Regions from separate parts of the Homo sapiens genome. Here all the other regions are linked to region 2. The links come from fine-mapping of genetic effects on gene expression. A gene starts in region 2. Each other region holds a variant in brackets. All regions are shown on one strand. Distances are from middle to middle. Region 1 overlaps NFX1 (nuclear transcription factor, X-box binding 1). Region 2 holds the start of NFX1 (nuclear transcription factor, X-box binding 1). Region 3 overlaps SPINK4 (serine peptidase inhibitor Kazal type 4).

Region 1 (2,762 bases), 43 kb before region 2:
AGCACTTTGGGAGGCTGAGGCAGGCGGATTACATGAGGCCAGGAGTTCGAGACCAGCCTGGGCAACATGGTGAAACCCCGTCTCTACTAAAAATACAAAAAAATTAGCCAGGCATGGTGGTGGGTGCCTGTAATTCCAGCTACTCAGGAGGCTAAGACAGGAGAATTGCTTGAGCCCAGGAGGTGGAGGTTGCAGTAAGCTGAGATTGCGCCACTGCACTCCAGCCTGGGCAACAAGAGCAAAACTCCGTCTCAAAAAAAAAAAAAAAAAAAAGAAAAAGAAAGATAAAATAGAGAAGAAGAAAAAATGTAAGACAGAGAAAATATTTTGGAACTAGATTGTGAAAGAACTAAGTGCCACTGAACTGTACATTTAAAATGGTTAATTATGTTATGTGAATTTCAACTAAAAAAAAAGTGGGCTAACCACTGAAGTATTTATGGGTGAAATGATATTTGAGATTTGTTTTCAAAGTACTTCAGCATAAATAAAATGTAGGGAAGGAGGGATGGATGAAAACGAGAGGTAAAATGTTGACAACTGATGATGACAGGTCATAGGTACGTGGGGATTCATTATACCAGTTTCTCCACTTTCACGTATGGTTGAAATTTTGCATCATAAAGTTATAAAAAGTGGGACAGGACGGTTCCTGCTTATTAATAATGGGGAAAAACTGGAGACAACCTAAATGACCACCAAAAGGGTCATGGTGAACTATGACAAGGCAGATCCACATATGGAATACTCTGCAAGAACAAGAGTTATGCATACTGACATGGAAATACGTCTTTGAGATATTAGTGAGGGAAAATAAGCTGCAGACAGTATCTTTAGTATAAGCCTAAATCTAGGGAAAAACAAAACTATGCTGGCATGTTTATACATCTGTATGAATAGGGAAAAAGATCTGAAACCCTAACTAACAAACTACTATTAGAGGGCAAATTTTCATCTTTCACTTCATATTTTTTTTTAAACTTCATAAGTGTATTAATTTTGTATTTTTTCAAATTATGTTTTTATTATTTTGTTTTATTGTTTTAGAGATAGGGTCTCGCTCTGTCACCAGGATAGAGTGCAATGGCACAATCACAGCTCACTGCAACCTCAAACTCCTGGACTCAAGCAATCCTCTGCCTCAGCCTCCCGAGTATCTAGGACTATGGGCACATGCCACTATGCCTGGCTAACTTTAAAAATTCTTTTGCAAAGACAGTGCCTCACTATGTTGCCCAGGCTGGTCTTGAACTCCTGGCTTTAAGTGATCCCCCAGCCCTGGCCTCCCAAAGCATAAGGATTACAGATGTGAGCCACTGCATCTGGCCCAAATTATGTTTTTCTTGTTTCTTTTTTGATACGGAGTCTCACTCTGTCGCCCAGGCTGGAGAGCAATGGTGTGATCTCAGTTCACTGCAACCTCTGTCTCCTGAGTTCAAGTGATTCTCCTGCCTCAGCCTCCTGAGTAGCTGGGATTACAGGGGTGCGCCAC[T/C]GTACTTGGCTAATTTTTGTATTTTTAGTAGAGATGGGGTTTCACCATGTTGGCTAGGCTGGCCTTGAACTCCTGACCTCAGGTGATCCGCCCACCTTGGCCTCCCAAAGTGCTGGGATTACAGGCATGAGCCACCAGGCTTGGACCCAAATTATGTTTTTAATAACCAAACTTTTTTTCCTTGATACAGATGGCACACTGAACCAAAAGTTTAAATACGGTTTTGAGGCAGATATTGCTGGGTACCTCCCAAACGGCCACTCTTCTCTTTCAGGCAAAGACAGCCTTAATTTTGTTCAGAAACTGGGAGCCAGTGTGCTCCTCAGTTCCAGGGGTGGATGTTGTGTACCTTTACCCACCATGGTAATTCCATTCACTTTGCTAGTTACAGGTTTAGGCAGAAGAATTGGACACAGTGTACTGAGAACCTTTCAGGACTGTTTTCCTTGCTCTTACATAGGAAGAGAACAACAACACTCTCTTCATGGATTTTGTTTAGATGTTGTTGGGCAGAGACCCAATGTGTGAAGCTGCAGCAGCTAACATACCCACGAGGAGAAAATCAAGAAAACCACAGAGAAGCCAAATTGAAGTCTTCAAAATCACTGAGCTAAAATTAACCAATCTCGGACTTGTTCTGCCTCCAGATATCCTATCAGGTGTGGCAGTAAACACCCTTATCGTAAAAGTCACTTTTTCTTGGGTTTTGTTACCTGCATCCAGAAGCTTCCTAACCAATACAGCTTTCTTTCTGACTACAGTAAGACCTTTTATTTTGCATATCCTTATCTTCCATCACTTTTCCAAAAAGGTTTTAAAATGGCTTCAACAACAGTATGTGTCGGTTATAAAAACAGGAATCGAGGCCGGTGTGGTGACTCATGCCTGTAATCCCAACACTTTGGGAGGCCGAGGCGGGTGGATCACTTGAGGTCAGGAGTTAGAGACCAGCCTGGCCAACACAGTGAAACCCCGTCTCTACCAAAAATACAAAAATCAGCCAGGTGTAGTGGTGGACACCTGTAATCCCAGCTACTTGGGAGGCTGAGGCAGGGGAATCACTTGAACCTGGGAGGTGGAGGTTGCAGTGAGCCGAGATCGCGCCACTGCACTCTGGCCTGCGAAACAGAGCGAGACTCCGTCTCAAAAGGAAAAAGAAAAAAAGTTCAAAGTATTTTACAGTGAACATCCATATGCCCATATCTAGATTCTACCATTAACATATTTTTTCATATACATATCCATTCTTCTACCTACCCACTAATTTTCT
Region 2 (2,762 bases):
AATAGATCCAGTTTAGAGAATCTGGTGAAGGACTAGGTGAGGAGAATAACAAAATACCCAGCCCAAAAAGTTTTCCAACCCCAAGGAAGACTTAATATCCACATCAAGACTAGGGTACACCAATGCAGTGTGTTTTCCAACTTTTTTTTTTGAGACGAAGTCACACTCTGTCGCCCAGGCTGGAGTGCAGTGGCACGATCTTGGCTCACTGCAACTTCCGCCTCCAGGGTTCAAGCAATTCTCTTGCCTCAGCCTCCGGAGTAGCTGGGACTACAGGCGCGTGCCACCATGCCCAGCTAATTTTTTGTATTTTTAGTAGAGACGGGGTTTCACCGTGTTAGCCAGGATGGTCTCGATCTCCTGACCTCGTGATCCGTCCACCTCGGCCTCCCAAAGTGCTAGGATTACAGGCGTGAGCCACCACGCCCGGCCCTAACTTTTTAAACTAAGAACCATAGTAATAAATACATTTTACCTGCCACCCAGTATACAAATACATATATGGTCTTCTTGGTGCCCCAACGGCTGGTCAGGGACAGAGCTGAGATTCAAACCAATGGTTTCCAAACTCCATTCTGCAAACTGCTGCCCTGTTTTCCAGAGTGGGCCATAAAATCAAATGAAGGCAGTGGGCTGTGACATATTTTTAAACGAAACAGAAAACAGAATATATTGCTGATTGTAAAACAAACCAACCAACCTCACTGCTTCCAGAAACTTCTGGTTCGCTTTTATATTTATGTAAGTGTACAATATTTAAGGTCGCGATGCAAAATGTTTCTTTTGGTTGCTGTCCAACACATTTGGAAAACACTGATCTATGGAACACCCTGAGGAAATGGATGTTATATCAACGAACAAATGAGGCTGTCTCTACACACTGAGGCAACTCCAGGAGGGGGAGTGAGTGAACAATTACAGAATAGGTACAGTACAGGGCGGGAGCCATCACAGGAATTAACTTATCTACTCCCAACTGACAGATGAGGAGACTGAGACTGAGTCACACGGGGTTCGCAGCAGGCTGAGACTCTAAACTACTGGAATTCGGCTCGCGCCCACGCCACCACTCCAGGCGGTATGAGCACACCACACCCTACACGTCAAGAGCCCGCCACCGTCACTGGCTGTGACCTGGCCGACGCCCGCCTGTCGAAGGTCAGTGCGCCGCTGCCCCAGAAACAGCCTGTGGGAAGGCAGGGCACCCACATCGACTCGCAGCGCCGGGACAAGTCCTCTCTCCTCCGAAACCCAGCTACTGGGCTTCACCATCTAGTCCAAGAAGACACAGATCTTCGTACGCACGATGCGCGGGGCTTGGCCCTTCCGAGCCACTATCCTACGCCCTAGCATGTGCTACTCTCGCGATATGAGTGGCTGAGGCCCTAGAACTTCGTCACTGACCCAATTTCCGCTCCCTGAAAGGGGCCCAGTCCCGCTCGGGCCGGGACAATACCTGAGACAGGAGGCGCCTCCGCCATCCCGTGCCGCAGAACCTAGATCGAGCTGTACAGCCAAGTCAGCACTGTCACCAGGTCACGTGCCCCGGACTTCCGGCGCCGCGAGAATATTCGCATCTGCGCGCCGTGTAGACGGCCACAGAGGTTGCGCAGCCCGAATCTGTGTGGCGCGTTCGTGACGTCAGATAGACGCGCCAGGTGTCGGGCGGGAGGAGGAGACTAGTAGCTGGATGGAAATAGCAACAATCGCAGGAGGGAGGGCGGCGACTTGCGTAATCATTGTGGTTTTCCTTTTTTTATTTTTTGATATAGGGTCTTGCTGCCTTACCCAGGCTTGAGTGCAGTGGTCTGATCATGGCTCACTATAGCTTCAGTCTCTAATCCTCCCGCCTCAGCCTTCCGGTAGCTGGAACTACAGGCGGAGCCACCATGCGCAGCTATTTTTAGTAGAGACGGGTTTCGCCATGTTGCCCAGGCTAGTCTCTCCAACTCCTGGCCTCAAGCGATCCTGCCGCTTTGGCCTCCTAAAGTGCTTGGCTTACAGGCGAGCCACCACGCCTGGCTCCAGACTTTTTTTTTTTTTTTTTTTTTTACAAAGGCGTTTATTCTCATCAGTATCACCGATATTCTCATGGTTCACATTTGCCAACGCCGCTCCTCTCCTTACAGTAGTTAAATGTGCAATCTCACTTGGGGGCCCAGGGAGGGGTGGGGGCTCGGCCCAGGGTGGGGAGGGCGTTGGCACTTCACGTGGACAGGGTGGGCAGCCTGTCCTGCGTGAAAGAGGTGTGGGTGAGTGGGCGGCCAGGGAAGGGGAGTTGGCAGGGGAGGGCCCCGCAGTCTTTTTTTCTTTGGTGGTTGGTGATTCTCCATTCAGATTCCTTCCTGGCTTCCCAGGGTAGGGGAACCATGCAGCTCAGGGCAGGGCAGGGGAGGAAGAGAAGGAAAAAGCAGCAGGCCGCCCGGGGGGAAAGGTGGAGGGTGAACGGCAGGGCAAGGGGGAACGGGTGGCTCCTGAGGTAAGGCACAACCCTGTCTTTGGCTTTCCTGGTGAGGAGTTTCCTCCCCTGCACCCCCTGCCCGACGCTTCTCCCCACCCCCCCACCCCCCAGACCCACACACAGTCCCAGGAGCCAGGGGGCACCACCTCCTGGGGTCCCTGAAACAAGTGGGCTCTGCCACCCAAGCCAGTGCCGCAGGGGCTCGAGGAGGGACACCCGAGGAAAAGGCAGAGAGGGGCAGGCAGGGGCCTACCCAGGACAAGGGGGTGGGGGTGAGAAGACCCTAGGCCCAGGAGCTGGG
Region 3 (2,762 bases), 41 kb after region 2:
CTTCCACAAAGCAGGACATGTGACTGCTGACAACCCCTGTGTTGCTCATCCTACAGCTTCAGTGCCAGAGGGGAACTGCCTCTGTTTGCTTGTTTCTAATTTGAAAGATCCTGGGGAAGAATCTTTTGGCTAATCAGCAATGGCCAGGGCAGCAGGGTCTCATGCCACACATAAGGTCTTTAGGGGCCAACACTTAGGTTTTGGGGTAGTTCCCAGAGAGGGGGCCACAGAGTCCACATCTGTAAGTGGTAAATTAGGTATTCCTTCCAGGTGGTGCCTGGCACATTGTTCAGGCTTAATCTCTGATTCCTCAGATGATGAGTAGAAGCCTGGGAAGGAAGGGTCACTGATGAGATGCTTGGCTGGGCTATGCCACTTGGGTATAAGAGGGGTGTCCCACTTAGGGCAGAAACTTTTAGATGTCACCAATATCCACTTTCTCCTCCTACAAAAAGTGAACTAATTTTTAGTTTAATGCATGGCCAACCAGATAGACTGTATTTCTCAGTCTCCCTGCTCAGAAGGCCATGAGACTACATTTTAGCTAATGTGGTTTATACAGAGTGTGTATGTCTTAAGGGAAATGTCTTCAGAGGCAAGTGGCGTGCCCTTTCTCTCTGTGGCCTAGAATGCAGATGTGATGGCTGTGGTTGGAGTAGCTGTCTTGGACCTGAGGTAGAAACTGTGATGCGGATGGCAGAGTAACAAAATAGAGGAGCATGGAGTTGTCATACTACATAGGTCTATGTGTAGGAGAAATGAAGTTCTGGCTATAAGTCACTGTTATTTTGGGTTTTCTGCCTCTCACAGCCAAACTTAATCCTACATCATTCATATGCAGGTATGAAACAGGTATGAATCAGTCCCAGTAGAAGGCCTTATTCATAGATGGCCTCCTAGGCCTGCCACCTGCAAATCTATCAGCAACAATTCCTGCTCAGTGTTCCCATTCCAGTGGTCCAAGAGAAAGTAGCTTCCTGCCTTCCTGTGCCCATTCTCTCAGACATGTGTCTTCTACAGAGCATTTCCTGCCCTTTCTGCCCACTCTGCAGCAGGAATCAGAGTCTGTGTGAAACTGCTTTCACCTGCCCAGGCCTCTCTCCATACCCCTTTCTCCTGCCACCATTATCAAGAGGCTCTGCCTAGGGGCTTTGGCCAAAAGAGGAGGTATTCAACATATACCACAGGAGGGAGTCTCTGTCTATGGTGACAATTCTGAACACTGTGTGTCCCTGTGGGACATTGTGTGAGTGCATGTGTGCAGGACGTGCCTGGGGCTGTGTCTAATGTCAGAATATTTGACAACCAGTCAGAGCAGATGTTGACCAAAAGAGCAGAGCAGCATCTCGAAATCATCCCACAGTGCCAGGAATTAACCCCAGACTGTGGAAACCGAGAGACCCAGGTGTTTCCAGGGGACAATCTGGGTGGCTAGGGTATGGGGGGGCA[C/G]TCAAAGGGCTTGGGGCATCACCTGTTTTCGATTGTGAAAAACCTAGTTCAATGTTACAACAAGCAGTTCAGCTGTACTGTGTACACTGCCTGAATATCAGCCATTGCTGTGCCACGTGTCTGTGTGTACATGCCTTGGAGTGCTGGCACAACCCAGGAGGAAGCCATGGGGGGCACAGGATGACTCTCACAAAGCTTTTTTTTTTCTTTTTTGAGGCAGGGTTTCACTTTGTCACTCAGGCTGGAGTGCAGTGATGCGATCATGGGTCACTGCAGCCTCGACTTCCTGGGCTCAAGCAATCCCCTCCCACCTCAGCCTCCTGAATAGCTGGGACTACAGGTGCATGCCACCAAGCCTGGCTAATTAAAAAAAAAAAAAATTGTAAAGACAGTCTTGCTATGTTGCCCAGGCTGGCCTGAAGCAATCCTGCCACCCTCAGCCTCCCAAAGTGCTGGGATTATAGGTATGAGCTACTGTTCCTGATTTCACAGAGGCTTTCTGAGGCTGGGCCGTGCACCCCAGCAGTGGCAGAGGATACAGACCTCACCTAGGTTCTTGGCCTGAATGATAGTCCAGGCTGGGGCAGACAGGAGTACTAGGCAGCATCCTGGGGTCAGGGACTGGCCTCTCAGGCAGGCAGAAGATAACTGGGACCTCTGAGGGGACATGTGACAGGGTTGAGGAGCACCAGAGGGACGGAGAGAAGCTGGACATCAAATTCAGAGTAGAGGCGACAATGCAAGATCCACCTCCTATCCCCTCTGCAACCAGTGTCCCCAGAGACACTGACCACTTCACTCAGTTGGGCTGGATCTTTTATTTCATGTCATATCCTCTCCATGCCCACCACTGTTCTCCAGCTGACACTTCATGGCTTGAGGTGCTCCTGTGGGATCAGCATTTGCCATCTTTCATGATCTGGATGTCCTGTTTGGTTTTTCTAGGATCAAAGAAGACAGGCATGAGGCTACCTTCTCAGGAGCTGTAGTGTACCATTCAGGGACCTGGCACAGTCCATCCAGACATCCTGCTGAGCGTCGCCCACATATGCAGTGTATGGATACAGGGCAGATCCCAAGGGTCCATGGGCACATCCTTCTACAGCTTTTCCTTTTTTGTACACCCTTCCCCTGGGGGATTTTAGCTTCCTGGGGTTTCCACCACCAGCGCACGCTGATGGCTGCCAAATCTGTCTCCAGCTCGGACCTATGTCCTACCTGTTCATGCAGTTGTCCATATCCAGTGGGATGTCCTAGGGGCTCAACTGTCCACAAACATCACTGCCCCCCACAGAACTGGTACAGACCCCCAA

What was found.
Region 1: its variant is fine-mapped to the expression of NFX1 in whole blood (TOPMed, PIP above 0.99).
Region 3: its variant is fine-mapped to the expression of NFX1 in whole blood (TOPMed, PIP above 0.99).

What each region holds. Positions count from the first base shown.
Region 1 is chr9:33,332,739-33,335,500 of GRCh38, reverse strand. All of the region lies in intron 11 of NFX1 (nuclear transcription factor, X-box binding 1), which reads right to left. Among named protein-coding and RNA genes, the nearest start is that of NFX1, 44 kb to the right of the region's middle. The variant T/C (reference allele first, on the strand shown) is at 1,493.
Region 2 is chr9:33,289,292-33,292,053 of GRCh38, reverse strand. It overlaps NFX1 (nuclear transcription factor, X-box binding 1), which reads right to left and starts at 1,538. Exons shown (of 24, transcript NM_002504.6): 1 at 1,457-1,538. The coding sequence starts at 1,481. It also overlaps the pseudogene LOC100862682. RefSeq lists enhancers at 1,263-1,312, 294-1,493, 1,463-1,512, 1,523-1,942, 2,648-2,762.
Region 3 is chr9:33,248,054-33,250,815 of GRCh38, reverse strand. SPINK4 (serine peptidase inhibitor Kazal type 4) reads right to left here. Exons shown (of 4, transcript NM_014471.3): 4 at 2,249-2,390. The coding sequence ends at 2,345. Among named protein-coding and RNA genes, the nearest start is that of SPINK4, 9.3 kb to the right of the region's middle. RefSeq lists an enhancer at 1,794-1,903. The variant C/G (reference allele first, on the strand shown) is at 1,450.